2 separate regions of the Homo sapiens genome follow, and region 1 is linked to region 2. Evidence: fine-mapped expression QTL. Tissue or cell type: esophagus muscle. Region 2 holds a variant in brackets; the other region holds the start of a gene. All regions are shown on one strand. Distances are from middle to middle.

Region 1 (8,103 bases), 52 kb after region 2:
GCTTGCCTTCCCTACGCGATTGTGTATGGCCCCCGCTGAAATGTTCCTAAAAACACGATTTTGTAAACGCTTATGCTCCACCAGACATCCAGCGCATCTACTGGATGCCCAGCGTCTACACCAGACGCCCAGCGTCCCGAGTGGGGTTCACTTTGTCTCTTCACACCCAGGGACTCTCAGCCTGAGGTGAGGGAAAGGAAGGGGGGTTATTAAGAATTCTGACAAGGTAGGCTGAATAAATTGTGTTTTCTTTGTGAGCCTTAATCCGGTGTTGTATTGGCTTCTGGACATGGCTAATTTATTTGGAATTTCATTCTGTTCCTGACAGCGTCCTTGACTAGCTGTTTGATCACCCCGAGCAAAGTTACATACCAGCTTTCAACCGTTGGGAGGGCAGCGGCGTCCTTTTTCTCAAGTGCCTTCTCCTGGGTCGGGCTTTATGCCTGCAGCAGGGCGTTTCAAACGGCTGAGGCCATCCCTTGTTAGGGAGAGAAACCTCCCGGGCAGGGGTCTCCCTCAATGAGGAAGCCCTCCACTTCCCCCCACTCGTCCCACTGTTCGTGATTTTAATCTGCTTTTGTGGCGCAGGAAGAAAGAAAATTAATTTTCGCCCGTCTGTGTGTAGGGAGCATTTCAGTGGAAACCCGGTTTGAAATGCATGTTCTGTTGATTTCGGCAGCCTGCGCCGGCTGGGGTTTTGAGATGCAGCATTCTCAGGGGAAGAGGTGATGGGCCACAGGCCTTCGTGGGGTGGGAACTCAGGCTCCCCGTGGGCCCTGGACGGGGTCCTCATGTCCTGTGCTCCGTCTTGGCAGGAGTAAGAGTTGATGATGTTCATGCTCTCCCAACTCACCCATCTCTGCCATGGTTGCTTTTTTTTTTTTTTTTGGTTAAAGCAAGCATATTTTGCTGTTGCAAAAAGAAACAAAGAAAAAAATGATTTTCAACAGGACCCTGACATGTCTGAGAATGTCTCACTGTCAACAAGGCTGTAGGTGGTGGTTTTACAATTTTGGCGGAATCTGTTCTAAGGAAAACACGTGCTTCTTTTAATTTGGCCTCCCAGCTCCAATGCACGTGGCCGTCCTTGCTGAGAGTCTTCTGGGTGCCTGGAACTGTGCTAAGTCCTGGGGGATTCGGCGAGAGCTCGAGTTCTAGAAACACATGGAAGAGTTCAGAGGATGTTGGTGCTATGAAAATAACAAAACCAACCAACACACTGAGGCCCTGGGGGATGTGCCTGGTGGTCCCTGGGGGAGGGCGTTCAGTATTATTCCTGGGTCCTGCATTTGAGTCAGCCAAGTCCAGCTCATCTCGATGACATTTGGGCGGGGATTTCCCCTGCAAAGCACTCTTATCCCCAGCCTTGCTTGCAGAAGCTGGGAAGGGATTATCATCCCCTCACCGTTTTTTTTTTTTTTTTTTTTTTTTGAGATAAGGTGTTGCCCAGGCTGGAGTACAGTAGCTTGATCATGGCTCACTGCAACCTCTGCCTCCCAGGTTCAAGTGATCCTCCTGCCTCAGCCTCCTAGCTAGGTGGGACAACGAGTGTGCACCACCACATCCAGCTAATTTTTGTATTTTTTTTTTTTTTGTAGAGATGGGGTTTTGTCATGTTGCCCAGGTTGGCCTCGAACTCCTGAACCTTCTCACGTCGGCCTCCCAAAGTGCTAGGATTATTTTCCCCTTTTATTGAGGGGAGGAAACTGAGGCCCAGTGATGCTTCAGTGGAGACCAGCTTGCCTGGGGCTCACAGGAAGCTGTTCACAAGGTTCTTGGGGCTCTGTCCCAGGCTGTCACCTGTACTGAGGGCTGGTCCTGGGCGGGGACCAGGCTTTGGGGGCAAGAACTTGCACCTCCTTGTTACTTCCACTCCAGGCCTTCCCCACGGAGCTCACCTGTGGAGAGGTTTCCTCTGCCAAGCATTTCATCAGGAAACAGTGAGTGAGGGTGCGTCACTCACTGCTCTGTCAGCGTTGAACATTTGGGTGCAGGAAGATGCCTTGGCTCTTTGAGGTCCCGATGGCAACTTGCATCCCCAGATCCATCCTCAGAGGCCCGGGGCTGGGAGCATCCCCGGATCCATCCTCAGAGGCCCGGGGCTGGGAGCATCCCCGGATCCATCCTCAGAGGCCCGGGGCTGGGAGCCACCACCGCCCAGCTCCATGCGTTCCCATTGGCGGGGTCTGGGTCTGCGCTGATGAGGCGCTCGTCACTCTTATCCTGGATTATATTCACAGGCGGGTAACTCGGGGGGTGGTGTGATGGGGAGACACAGGAGGGAGGAGCAGGGAGGGCAAGATGAAGGGGAGCAGTCTGGGAAGGGGGCGACTCCAGGCACAGCCGCACGTCCCTGGGATTTTCAGGGGGAGCTCTGGGGGTTCAGAGTGGCCTCTAGTTTGTCCTGGTCCAAAGCAGGGAAGCTGGGCTACGTCCTGCCCAGGTCAGCCTTAGGTTAAGGGCTGCCTGGGGGAGGGAACTTCCTGGGCCTTCGGGTCTCTGTGCACTGGGGTGGCTCCTGTGGCCCAGAATGCCCTGGAGAAGGGTCCTACTGGAAGCGAAGGTGCAGGGCAGCAGGGCCTGAGGCGCAGGAGCTGGTGGAGGCTCCCAGCACAGGTCGCCGCCCCAGTCACATCACTGCTGATGGTGGGGGGACTTGGGGAGTTTCCCCCGAGAATGGGAGGTCTCACAGTCCCCGTGCTGCAATGCTGTCGGTGCACTGTGTCTGCAACGTGCTCATGGTCACTTGCTTTTTCTCTGTGGCCCCGGCCGCTTTATCCAGCAAGTAGCCCCCTCTCCTCTCCGGAGAAGCCGAGCCTGGATGCCGCTGGGAGGAGGTCACTCCCTTCCTGTCTCGAAGGGCATGCCGTCCTCGTCCTTGCTGACTCCCAGAGGCCCAGGGACGTCTGAGGGGGAGGGGCCGGGCCTCCTTGACCCCTGCGTGTGGACACCATGTGACTGGGGTGTGGTTGACTCTCTGTGTCCGATTGGGTGCTTGGCAAACACAGAGAGTTTTGTCCAAGGCCACCTTGGTCCCCACCTGTCCAGGTTGGGAGGTGCCCTGCCTGGTGTGGCCTGAGCTGAGCGCCTCTGGCCGGAGCAGACGGCCCCGGCTCCCCCAGGACATGTCACCTGGAGAGGTGGCCCTTTCAGGTAAGGGACATGCCCATTGGCAGCAGCCTCTGCCCCCTCCCTGCATACACAGCTGCTCCCATCTGGGGACCCTCACCCCACGTGCGGATGGGCTTCCCCAGGAAGTCGGCAGGACTTTCCCTGGCCTTCTGGAAGTCCCCATCAAGCAAATGCTCTATCGATGACTTACTCTATGACGGGGTCCAGAGAGCTAACTCCCCACCCACGTTCGAAGTGATCTTCAAACCGCTGCGCGTGGAAAACAAGCCCAGAGCTCAACGTTCCCTAAGTGAGTGGCCTTTGACAGCAGTGCCAGGCAGCCCAGTGGGTGCAGGGCACACCACAGATGGAGGAAGGGCCAGGCATGCTTCCCAGACAGCCTCTGCCAGTCCAGGCAGGGGCTCCAGGGTGGCTGCGGGAAGGCAGCTTAGGCGGTGCCCGGCCCAAGGTGAGTTGGCATCATGCTCCACTTCCCGTTTGAACGTGTGGTCCCGTTTGAACCTTCTGGAAAGGCTTGGCAGGGAGGACACTCATTTTGTAGACTGGGAAGGAACTGAAGAGCTGGCTTCCGGCGACCAGCGATGGGCCCCAGATCCCTGTGGCCAGGAAGGCCCCCATTGCTGTTCTCTGTAGCTCAGGCTGGACATTTGCTGGTGAGAACTGGCCGGACTCCCAGGACCCAGCCGCCAGAGACCTCTGTTCCTCACGCTCAGCCCCCTAGCTCCAACTGGGGCCCCTTTGCTTTACAGGATGTAGGCTTGGAGTTAGAGGGGGCAGTTCTGGCGGTTTATCTCTCACTCACAGAAACTCGGCTGTGAGAGGCCAGAGCTGGACTTGGGGGGCAGAGCCTGTAGAGGTCAATGTGTCCTTATTGGGTGTGCACACGTGTGAGTCTGTGTGCACACACATGTATACATGTGTATGCGTGTGTGTGTGTGTGTGTGCGCGCGTGTGGCAGTCAGAGAAGGCTGGGCAGACACTGTTATTTCAGAAAAGATGTGGAGGCCTTTCTGAAGGCATCCACTGAGAGGCAGGGGCCAGGATCTCTGTGCCCAGGCGCTGGGCGTGGCCCCTGAGAAGTGCTCTCTCCCCTAATCCTTCAAAGCAGGAGGTATTTGCTTCACTTTCTAAGGCAGGATCTGCGGCTCTGAGAGGTTGCACAACTTGCCCGAGGTCACTCAGCTAGTAGAAGGCAGGACTGGCCTCCGGTCCAGGGTGACTGTGAGGATGTCAGGGGACCCTGCAGGCCTGTGCGCCCCAGCTTAGGGCTACAGGTCCCACCTAAGGCTTCTTGATGGAGGTTGGAGGGGCGAGCTGGAGGGAGGTGCTGCTGGGGGTCCACCGGTCCCCTTCCTGGGGGATGAAGCCGGTTTCCCGCGCTGACCCCCTTGCCATCAGAGGCCCAGAGCGCGGTCCTTGTGCTGCTGAGCTGTGTTTGGGGCCGCCTGTGGGCTGTGGCCGCCTGTCCTCATCTTCTCCCCTTTTCTCCTTGGCTTTTCATCCTCAGGCTCCGTCCTTCTTCCCCGTGGTGGCCCCAGCCTCCCTGCCAAGCTTCCCGGCCCCCGCCCCATCCCGGGCCTGCTGCTGCGGAGACCGTGGGCCGGCGCTGGACGGCGCGGCCTCCAGAAGTGATAGCTAATTGGGGAGAGAAAGGGCCCAATTGTCTGGCGGGGCCGGAAGAGCCGCGTGGGCTGCTGAAAGCGTCGGGAGGAGGTGGCCGCTTCGCCCAGCAGCTGCCGCCGGGGATGTTTGCAGATTACGTCAGCGCTGGCGAGCAGGGGGCGCGGGGACAGCGAGGGGGGCGGGCTCCCGGCGGCCTCCCGCCCCCCAGGCCCCTGGACAATGCTGTCATTGTCAGCACGGAGAGTGGTTAATTCTGGATGAATGGTACACGGGCCTCTTGACCAAGGAGGCTGCTCGTCGTCCCCAGTCTGTCCTCTCACATGCCAGGGAGGCCCCGGGCTGGAGTCTGGCGGGCAGATCTGGCCTGCTTGGTGGCACCAGAGAGAACAGGGCGGTCCCTTGGGGGCGCCGGCTGCAGAGGCCCCAGGCTGGACGGAGCTTCCTGTCCTGGGTCTGCACAGCAGCCACTTGGCAGTGCCGGGCTAGGGTGGCAGGGCCCCACTGCATCTCGGTTCCAGGGCAGAGGCTGCTGCTGCCCTTTGGGGCTGACTTCAGGCATGACCTCCTGGCCAGGTGGCAGCTTTGGCCCTGACCCGCTCCTGGCCCTGCTGGTGGTGATCCTGCTAGCACGCCTCATCCTGTGGTCCTGCCTCGGGACCTACATCGACTACAGACTGGCCCAGCGGCGGCCCCAGAAACCCAAGCAGGACTAAGCCTCTGCAGGCTGCGGCCTCCACGCGCCCTGTCCCGAGACTCAGCCGGCCCTTCCAGTGGTGGTGGGAGGGAGGGGAGCAGGGCAGGCGCATGATCCCCATGTCCCACCCCTGGGGCAGGAGCTCAGAGAGGCCTGAGATGGATCGTGCCTTCCCAGACTGACCAGGGCTGTCCCGTAGAGGCAGCTGGCCATGTGGGGAGATGGAGGGGCCGGCCTTGCAGGTCCATCACCAGGTTCTGGGGTCCCCGGTTGCAGGGAGTGGTCCTGGGGGTGGGTCTTGCTTTAAGACCTTCTCTGCCTCCAATTCCTTATAAATATGCCTGCAGGAAGAGCTGGGTAAGCCAGAGGACTCAGGTGGAGGTGCCACAGAGACAAATGTGACCTCATCACAAGCTGGCCCTGTTACCAAAGGCCACGTCCTGTCTCAGCTCACCACCCTCATAACTAGTCTCCTCCTGCCTCCCAAGGGACGAGATAAGTGCCGATGGCTGTCCTGATTTCTCCAGAGCAGACCCCTGGGAAGGGTCTCAGGACGCACTTGTGAGGCTGAGTTGACAAGCCAGACGCACTTGGCTCTGGTTGACCCTCTGCACACTCTCTAACGGTCTGAACAGTTAGGGCACAATGATCCCTGCCTCCCTCCCTCAGCAGGATATCATGTAGGGGACAATTTAGGGGACAAGCCAAGGCACCCATCAATGCCCTCTGTTCATCTGTTCCTGCAAGTGTGTGGCTGGGAAGTGCCCAGGAAGGCTGACAGGGCAGGGAAGTTGATTTGAGGCCAAGCATCCAGTGCTCCTGCTCCACCTCCGTAGCACGTTAGCCGTGATGCCAGTGACTTAACCCACAGCTTGGGGAAGCTCAAAGGCTCCACATTCGAGCCTCTTGGGGGAAATTCGGCAAACACCCATGTCCAAGTTCCACACTGTATTTCCTGGGATCGTTCCAGCAGATCGTGGATTGCAGCGAGGGCTGCTGACTGCATGCGGAACTGTGAGATGGAAGGGACTGTGGGCGGCAGCTCCAGGGAGGAGCATCGAACCAGATATCGTCTCTGGGAGGCTGGGCCTGGTGATGTGGCAACGTCTTGCTCCCTGAGAGGTGATGGGTATGCTAGGGATGCTCGCTCAGGGAACGTGGGCCAAGTCCTCTGAACACGAAGCTCGCAGAGGGGGTGATTCCTGTGAATTCTGAAAGGACTTGGGGGCGTCCAGCAAGAGCAGGAGCTTAGATGGTGGTTCCAGGGCTGGTGTTGCTGACTGGGACGAGTGGACCCCCAGGGTGGGCATGGAGTGGGGCACTGGCTGGGAGCCTCTGCCTTGCTGTGTCCTGGCTGAATGAACCCAGGTGAGGACCAGAAACGCTGTTATCACTGTTTCTGCGGCACCCGATACACTCACCTATGCCAAGGAAATTTTTTTTTTTTTTTTGGTTTCTACAGGACTTGCTGTGCTCAGATCCTCCATTCAAGAGAGCTACAGACACGGGGGTGCTGGTGAGCAGGAGCCGAGACCATCTGGGGTGGGACCGACCAAGAGTTTGAGGTGTCCAGGGGGTGACGTGAAGATGACCTATTGCAGAGGGTCCCTTCTCATTCACGCTCTGAAGTCTGCACAGGGGCAGGGGCTACCGTGCTCCATTTCAGTTTGGCCTCTGTTGTATCAGCCAGAGGCCAGCAGAACTCTATGGTCACTCCCCCGTGTCACGGACAATTTGCCACCTCCACCGGCAGCCCAGGGCTCTGCCTGAATATTCTCGCCTGATCGTAGGATTGTGGGGAGGGATATTCTCATTGATCTCTAAGGAAAATATTGTTCGCTTTTTAAAAACATGATCTGGTACCATTTCATTGATCTCTTTAAGGAAGAAAAATCACATGGTTGTCATGAGCATGTACCGACAGAGCTAGGAGGGCCAGCTGTTCCGGGTTGCCCAGGGCTGTCTTGTTTTTAAAATGGAAAGTTCGATGTCCTGGAAAACCCCTCAGTCCTGGGCAAACCAGGTCACGCTGGATAGAAGGAGTTAGACATTCATATGATGTGCCGATGTCTTGCCAGTTGTAGAGTTTTGTGTAAACCTGTGTGTGGCCTGCGTGTCCACATGGGTGTGTAGGATGGCACCTACACACATACCTGAGGTCACCTCTTGGTCCAGTGAGCCAGAATCCTGGGACTTCATCATCTTTTTTTTTTTTTTTTTTGAGATGGAATCTCACTCTGTCACCCAGGCTGGAGGGCAGTGGCGCAATCTTGGCTCACTGCAACCTCCGCCTCTGGGGCTCAAGCAATTCTCCTGCCTCAGCCTCCCGAGTAGCTGGGATTATAGGCGTGTGCCACCACGCCCTGCTGATTTTTGTATTTTTTAGTAGAGATGGTGTTTCACTATATTGGCCAGGCTGGTCTTGAACTCCTGACCTCAAGTGATCTGCCTGCCTTGGCCTCCCGAAATGCTGGGGTTACAGGCATGAGCTACCATGCCCGGCCTCAGAATCCTGGGACTTCTGCTGGAGCCAGGGGTCAGAACAGACTCCTCTACTGGGACTGCCTGGCAGGGAGGACAGACGCTCAAGGCGGCCCCATGAGAACACAGCCACCTGGAAAAATGGTGGAAGGGAAGATTCTGCCAACCTCCTC
Region 2 (8,103 bases):
GCATGGTGGGGTGGTGCTGGTGCAAAGCTGCCTGCCCAAGTGGGGAGTGCTCCAGCCGCATGGGGCATCAGTCACCTTGGGTATTGCTCCAGGAGCAGGCAGTCTGGGAGACCTCAGAGGAGGCCTGCTGGCTGGTCCACTGGTTTGTCAATCACTGGCAGGGCAGAGAGTGATGAGCTGGGCTTGGAGGGGACACAGTCTTGGATATGAGCCCAGCTCTGTGGGCACAGGCACTGTGGCCCCTTCTCCACTGGCCTCAGGTTCCTGGTGTGTGAGATGAGGTGGAAGTGAGCAGAGGGGGCTCCTGGCAGGGCTGCGAGCCTCCTACCTCTGGGTCCCACATCGGTGCTGGGTCCCAATGCCCACCTTGTCTCAGGGGTGACGTCATCACCTTTTGAAGAAGCCCCAGATGGTGTTGAATAGCGATCGCCACCCCCAGTGTGCACCAGGGAAGGAGCATCGTAGACCTAGCAGATGAGGGCAGGCATGACTGAGCCCGTCCCAGCTGGGCCTGGGTACCGGAGGCTTGTAACCTACAAGATGCCCTCAGAGCATAATTTGCATACAGGTGAGGGCCTGCGACAGAGGCCCTGCATGTCCAGAGGCATGGCCAGGTAGAGTAGGTAGGCAGGCTAGACACACCTGGAGATGCTGCCCTGGGCACACGCAGTTCCTGGGTAAGCCAGCGGAGGGCAGCAGAGCCTAGCGGCAGGCGACCCAGTGCCCAGGCCCTGGTACCCTCCTTGCCTCGCTCAGCACCAGGCCTGGGAAGGCAGGGGGAGTCCCCTCCTGGCAGGAGCTCCTCCTCCTCCTGGCAGCCTTCCTGGGCCTGTGCTGGGAACCTTACAACCCTTGCCTAAGAGACCCTAGGGGAATCTGTGTGGTGGCAGTGACAACCAACACTTGTTAGATTCTAGCCAGGAGAGAGGGTAGCGTGCTTTTAGTGGGGAGAGGGTGTGATGAGGTGGGCTGCTGGCTCCCACCACCAGGCCAGCCGGCCACCTGGAGTGCAGGGTACTGATGGGGCCCTCTCTGGCTGTGGGGTTCCCGCTGGGTGGGGCTGGAGCATCCCCTGGGTCTGTCCACCTGCCAGCCACTGTGGGGACACTCAGACTCCCTTCTCCCCGGGTGGGCCACGTCAGTGCCCCCGGGCATGTGAGGTGCTCAAAAGACCCTGCGCTTCTGTGGGTATGCGACTCATTCCACCTCATTTCCCCAGAAATCCGGGTCTCCAGGAGGCTCTTGCAGTCACCCCTTGCTGGTGAGTGCGCTTAGGGAAAGGCCATTTTCAGCCTTCACTGGGGCAAAGAAAAGAGGCTCTGTGTCTGGGGATGCAGTGGGCCACTGGTGAGGGGGGTCACGCTTTGCAGACAGGGCCAAAGTCCCAGAAGGGGAAATAGGTTGGGAGCTGTCAGAGGCCAAGTTGGACAGCTCCACCTTTCCCCCCGCACTGCACAGCCCCTTCTCCTGGAAGTGGACAGGGCAGGGAGGACTGAGAGGGGAAACTGAGGCCCAGACATCCAGGCAATTGCTGAGGTCACCCCAATGTCTGTTCCTTGAGTGCAGCAGTGGCTTGGGCCCCGGGTGCCCTGCCTGTCCATCAGCTCTGCCCACGCCCCCTCCCTGCTTTTTCTCCTTGGCATAGCCCACCCAGCCTCTGGCACAGCCCTGGAAAAATGGTCAAGGAAAACTCTGGGTGCTGGGCCAGCATCAGAGCAGAGCCTGGGGGACCCTGGACCTCCGTCGGTGGCCACAGCGGGAACACTGTGTGGAAGTGTGCTGTGCATACTCATGCATCCTCACTTCTGACTTACAGAGGAGGGAGCTGGGGCTCAGAACATCCTGGAACACGCCTGCCCCTGAGTACACCTGGGCTGGCTGCCTCCAGAAACCAGGGTGGTGTTGGCCACTCTGACAGGCAAAAGGGATTGCATTTGTTTTGGGAACTGTCTGAGGTTAGAAGTCACCCAGTGAAGACAGGAGAACACGGGTGGGGGATATTGCCTCAGTCTGAGTGCCCAAAGGTGGCGGTATTAGCTCAGCTGTGGGGACAGGCGGTGCACAGCCTGTGCTCTGGCCAGGAGGAAGGGGTGCATCAGGGGCTCTGTGGCTGGAGGCAAGGAGACCTCTCAGTAGAGCTGGGAAGGAGGAGTGGGGGCCCTCCTCCCTTGAGAGGTGGCAGGTGGGCAACGATGGCCATGGCTGGGCTGGAGGGAAACTGCTGACCCACGTCACTCGAGCGGGACATGAGACTGGCCCAGGCAGAAGGGCCTGAGACCCCAGGACCCTCATCAAACGTTCACCGGCTCCTTGGGGTTTGATGAAGGGTTCGCAGGCCCGGCAGTGTGCCCCCTCTGGGAGGCAGTCTTGCCTGGCTCATCTACCTCTGGCATTTGTTTCAGTTGCCAAGAATGTGTTTGGCGGCGCCAGGGCCGATGGTCCCACTTTCCACCTGGCAAGTAGTCCTGCCGTATAACTGAAAGGCAGCGACTCCACATGACCATGGGGCAGGCAGGATGGCGAGCTCTGCTCCATCCTGCATGGGGGCAGTGGCCCCGGGAGGCGGACTCCGGGCTGGACGGGAGACATGGGGGAAAAGTGAATCTGGTAGAGGTTACAGAGGGGCCACCCACTTGGCTGGGGCAAGCAGGAATGCTTTCCAGAGAGGCCACACTTCCAGGCTGTGGGGACCCGAGCACAGGGGTGGCGAGTTCTGGCATTTATTATTATTATTTGTTCCAGAACAAAATTCAACTCCCATCCTCAGTTGGCCAATAATGTGGTAGGAACAGGTGGGAGCTGACCCCCAGATGCAGGGTGCTGGGTGCTGTGCTGATTTTCTGGGGCTGCTGTGCAAAGTACCACAGCCTGAGTGGCTTTAGACCATGGAGATGTGCTGTGTTGCAGTTCTGGAGGCCAGAAGTCCCAGGTGCAGGTGCCAGCAGGACTGGGCACCCTCTGAAGGCCCTAGGGAAGCGTCCCTCCTTGCTGCTCCTGGCTTTTTGCGGCTCTGGTGTTCCTTGGCTTGTGGCTGCATCGTTCCAGTCTCTGTCTCCCCCTTCATGTGTCTTCTCCCCTGTGTGTCTGTGTCCACATTTCTCTCTACTTATAAGGACACCGATTGTATTGGATTCAGGGCCTTCCCTGCTCCAGTATAACCTCAACTTATTACATCTGCAGAAACCCTATTTCCAAGTAAAGTCACATCTGAGATTCCAAGTGGATGTGAATTTTAGGAGCACCTGATTCTACCTTTCCAGGTGTTTTCTCTCTCACAAGCATTCACGAGCAGGCAGCTTTTTGATTTTTACGGTGAGGGGCGGAACCCAGCATTGCTTTGAATGGCCGCATGCTAGGCATTGGGAGGGGTGAAGGCCAGAGAGTGGGGTGCAGGTATCAGGAATGAAGGGATGGGGGCCAGGGAGGCTCTAGCATCCAGTCTTCCTTCTGATCCCAGCCTT[G/C]CCATTTGCAGCTGTTTGGTGTTTGGGCAAATTATTGGACCTGCCTGAACTTTAGTTTCCACATCTGTAAAATGGGCCCGTTATTTCTCTGCACTGCACTGGCATCAGTTGCTGGTTCTCTGTAGCGAATGGAGATGACAGAGTCGGTTTGTACAGGGCCAGGAATGGTGTCCTCAGAAATGTTCCGGGGGTGGCCCCAGCTTCTCCTCCACCCGCTGGCTGCACAGACTCCTTGTGCCTTGGGTGCCTCATCTGCAGAACGGGAATAACCACAGTTCCTGCCCTGTTGGCTTAAGGCGAGGACAGGTGGGAGATGGGCCCAAAGCCCTCCCAGGTGCCTGGCCCGGGGCCAGCCTTCGATGCAGATCAGCCTCCGTGCAAGTCAGCTCTGGGGCTCAGGCATCTGGAGATGGTCGGGGAGGCTCTTGCAGATCTTTCTTCTTTCCCCCGAGACCCTGGCTCCACTGTGAGTTTTGTTGGCATTATTGGAGGGCGGTGGGGAGTGAGTGGCGGCGAGATGGACCTGGTAGCGATGACAGTTGCCAGCCACATCTCCAAGGTGGACTTGGTCCCAGCCTGGCAGCACAGGTGAAGCTGGGAGTGGTGCGTGCAGGGCTCTCTGAGTAAGCGGCATCCCAGAGCCTTCCTCTTGGACACTGACCGATGGGACATCGGGCCACGCAGCGTCCACACGCAAGCACTTGCCACCAAGTGTGTCTGCAGCGAGAAGATGCCAGGGGCTTGTGTGGCAGTGGAGCTGTCAGCGCCCACCTGCTGGGTCGAAAGCACCTGTCTCTGCCCAGAAGGGAGGGTCCCGTGGTGGGTGAATGAAGGTTGGGTTGGTTTCACAGACCCCCGTCGTGCCCACTTTGCCTGTCTCTCTGTCTAGACTGAGGCCACGTCAGCTGGCAGGGCCTGTGAGCCCTCTGGCCTTACATTTCCTTGGTCTGGGCCTCTCTGTGTCACATGGCGAATGATCCCTGAGCAACAGTGCCACGTCCTTGGGGAGCTTCGGTTTGAAGGGGCCCCTCCATGGATCTTTTGTAACGTGAGCCATTGCCCCGTGGGTTGGGGTTTCCATGGATTGGTGGGGCACACCGCACCTGTGGTCAGCCCCCACCCCCATCTTTGAGTCTGGGTAAGACAACTCTGGCCTTGCCCGGCCCGGGGTGCCCCCACAGCTCATTCACCTGGCACAGAGAGGCAGTGAGCAAACCAAGAAAGGCACTTTTGATCTGGGGACGGCTGGCACGTTTGCCAAGAGCCCCCAGACAGCCCTGCCTGGCTCGAGCCCAAGACAGCTTCTCAAAGGGCAGTTCCTTTGAGAGAGACTGTTGGGAAACACCTTTGAAAAATGGCTTTGTGCAGCCGGCCTGGAGGGCTGTGGACCGAGCCCCAGGGCTCCTCCTTGGCCACCAGCCTGGGTCCCAGGACGCAGGGCCATATGGCAGGTTTAGAAATTAAGCCAGGCCCTGACATTCCTGTGTGCAGCTCCGGAGGCCCCCTCCCCGCCCCGTGCCTGCAGCCCACTCCCTACCTCTGCCAGCCCGGGGCTCAGCGCCTGCCCTGTGCTTGGGGTGGGGTGAGGAGCTGGGCTTCCACGCCAGCCGACTGGGAAGCTTCTCCAAGTGGTGAAACCCAAGGGAAAGCCGTGGAGTCTTTCCCCGCTGCCACCCGCCTTGGTTTAGTGATGCTCTGCTGGGCCACGTATCCTGCTCTCAGAGTTCAGAAGGGACTTAATCTATTTTTGTCCTGTTCAGCCAGGATGATTATCTTTAATAAGGCCATCTTGAACGTTTCCTTGTCAGCTCGTTTTAAGGAAATGTTTGCGCATTAAGCATTTTCCCACAGCGGTAAGACAATGTGCTGTCCCTTGCCAAAGATCACATTTGCCATCCTCGGCGTTCCTGCCTCTGGACGGTGAGCCTGGAGGCTGGCCAGCCCATTGCTGCCAGGGGCCCTCCATTGATCACTATCAGGATGTGATTGATTAATATCATGGAGGAGGAGGCCTGCGCTTGGCTGGCCCGGAGCTCCCTGCTGCCGAGGGGCTCTGTGGGCAGGGTCCATGACCACTGGCAGTGGGGAGGGGCAGCAGCGAGGTGGTGCATGGGCTCCGGCAGGTGGCCTGAGTGATGGGCTGAGCTTGGCCGTAGCCGTGTGAACCGGCCGCCCGGCCCTGCCCCCAGCTCTTTGAAGCACTTCCAGTTTGCCCAGCTGGGTACGTCCAGTGCAGCCCTTTACATTTCCAGTTTGTCCAGATCCACAAAGCAAAACCAAACTTTCCAGGTCCCCTGAGGCCTGCTGGCCCTGGCTCCCAGGCCCGGCTGCCCAGTGAGGCGCTGTGGGAAGGTGCCTCTGGGTGATTCTCTGAGCCCGTGGGCAGGGGACGGAGGGAGCTTGTCCCAGCCTCCTGTCCTTGGTGAACTGCTCCAGTGGGGACAGGCCTCCCTCCACCATCTTCCCACTCAGGGCTACCCAGAGGCCAGGCTCCCAGGGCCCAGCCCTCACCTGCTGAGTGACCAGGGCAGGGGACAGCATCTGTATCTGGCTGTGTGGGGGCCCAGCCACAGAAAGGCAGGTGGGACAGCAAATGGCAGAGTTTGGGGTTTTCAGAGGCCACAGCTTCTGGGGAGAGGAGGATCCCTGAGCATGAATGGTTGCAACAGGATGTGGGGAGGGAAGAGGAAGAACTGGTCCAGACAGAGAAGGAGTAAGGAGGGCCCAGGGCAGTGGGCAATGCTGTGTCTGCTCCATATCCAAGAGGTGGTGCTGGGGCTGATGCCTGCGGAGAGGTGGGCAGCCCAGGGACTGCCTGGCCTGCTTGAGAAGCTAATGGCTGGATGGGTAGGGCCATCCAGTGAGGGTATTTTCTAAATTGGAAAGTCCCTGATTTTTTGGGAGCTGGAGAACTTTAAAGTGGGAAGGGCCTGTGGAGAACTTAGCATCAGGTCCCCTGGTGTTGGGGAGGCTGAAACCTGGCATGGCAGGAGTGGCCCAGCCCGTGCTGCTGGGAGAGGACCAGTGGCTGCTGCACTAAGAGCTTACCTGGGGCAGGTCCACGGGTCTCTCACAGTGCAAACCCCATGGCCTGGAATGCAGTATTCATGCCAGAAACACTGAGAAAGGCTCTGCCATCCAGGGACTATGCTGTGAGGGTTTGCTGAGCACCAGGATTTTCTGAGCAGTGGGGTTTGCTAAGCACCTGGGTTTTGCTAAGCACCAGGGTTTGCTGAGCACTGGGGTTTGCTGAGCACCAGGGTTTGCTGAGCACCAGGATTTTCTAAGCAGTGGGGTTTGCTAAGCACCTGGGTTTTGCTGAGCACCAGGATTTTCTCAGCAGTGGGGTTTGCTAAGCACCTGGGTTTGCTGAGCACCAGGGTTTGCTGACTACCATACTGCCTTGGATGCCACAGTGAATGCAGGCACAGCCCCACCTGAATGTTGCTTCAGCCTCCTCTTATCCCAGCTCTGTGAGATGGGGCCCCCACACCCCAGGGTTGTCCAGAGTATCACACCTCAGGATTGTCCAGAGTATCACACCTGGTCACACCCTCCTCCTCATCTTGGGAGAAGCCTCTGTGACCCACCTGCTCATGCCCGTGTCCTGGGCTCGGTGTTGATGCTCCCACCCCACCCCATTGCAGTCATCAACAAAGTCCATTTGAACCTCCAAGCACATTTTTGGTCTGCCTCTCCTCATTCCCTCTCCCCTGTCCCAGCCCCGCCATCCAACACACCTGGAGGACTATAGTGGTCCCTGATGGTCCACCTGTTTCTCCACTGCTGACTTCTCTGCTCTGTCTTTGCACCCGCAGCAGCTATTGGATCATGTCCCTCCCCGTTGTGAAACTCAGCCATGGCCGTCCACAGCCCTCCACCCTGGTCCCCAGCCTGCGTGCACGAGCCCCTGCCCACTGTGAGCCTGCCACCCCTGCCATGTCACTGGCCAGCACTACACCTCCCAGCCTCAGGGCCTTTGTCCAGGATGTTTGGATTGGGCTGAATGATGACCCCCTTAACGTATGTCCAAATCCTAACCTAGAACCTGTGGGTGTGACCTTTTTGGAAAGAAGGGTCTTTGCAGGTGAAATTAAGGTAAGGGATGAGATCATCCTGGATTATCTGTGTGGGCTCAAAATCCAATGCCAGGTGTCTCATGAGAGAAGAGGTGAAGACACGGAGAGGAGGAGGAGGATGCACGAAGACAGAGGCAGAGACTGGAGTGATGTGGCCACAGTCAAGGAACACCTGGAGCCCCCAGGAGCTGGAAGTGTCAGGAAGGACCCTCCTCTAGCACTTTCAGAGGGAGGGCGGCCTTGCTGACACCTGGGTCTTGGGCTTCGGGTCCCCAGAACTGAGAAAATAAGTCTGTGTTGTTCTGAGCCACCCAGTTTGGGATGGTTTGTTACAGCAGCTGCAGGAGACTTGTACACATTTGTTCTGCCGACACGCTTTTCTCATTCTCACACGCCTTTCAGGTCTCAGACCCACTCCCTGGGGGAGGAGCTCCTTGGTGCCCATCCAAGCACCTGCCCCTGCCCCTTTGGGAGCCCCACCACAGTCTATGATCATGCATTTATTGATCACTTATTAACTTATTTATTGGCTAATTACACATTTGTTGACTATTGAAAATGCG

Evidence for each region. PIP is the estimated chance that this variant, and not a neighbour inherited with it, causes the effect.
Region 1: it holds the start of SMIM38, and the variant in region 2 is fine-mapped to the expression of SMIM38 in esophagus muscle (GTEx, PIP above 0.99).

What each region holds. Positions count from the first base shown.
Region 1 is chr11:69,152,535-69,160,637 of GRCh38, forward strand. SMIM38 (small integral membrane protein 38) reads left to right here and starts at 3,401. Exons shown (of 3, transcript NM_001369201.2): 1 at 3,401-3,580; 2 at 4,640-6,817; 3 at 6,912-8,103. The coding sequence starts at 5,313. The coding sequence ends at 5,468. All of the region lies in intron 2 of LOC338694 (a long non-coding RNA gene), which reads right to left. RefSeq lists silencers at 1,227-1,521, 4,767-5,126 and an enhancer at 2,955-3,882.
Region 2 is chr11:69,100,886-69,108,988 of GRCh38, forward strand. No RefSeq gene overlaps it. Among named protein-coding and RNA genes, the nearest start is that of MIR3164, 22 kb to the left of the region's middle. RefSeq lists an enhancer at 1,260-1,760. The variant G/C (reference allele first, on the strand shown) is at 3,462.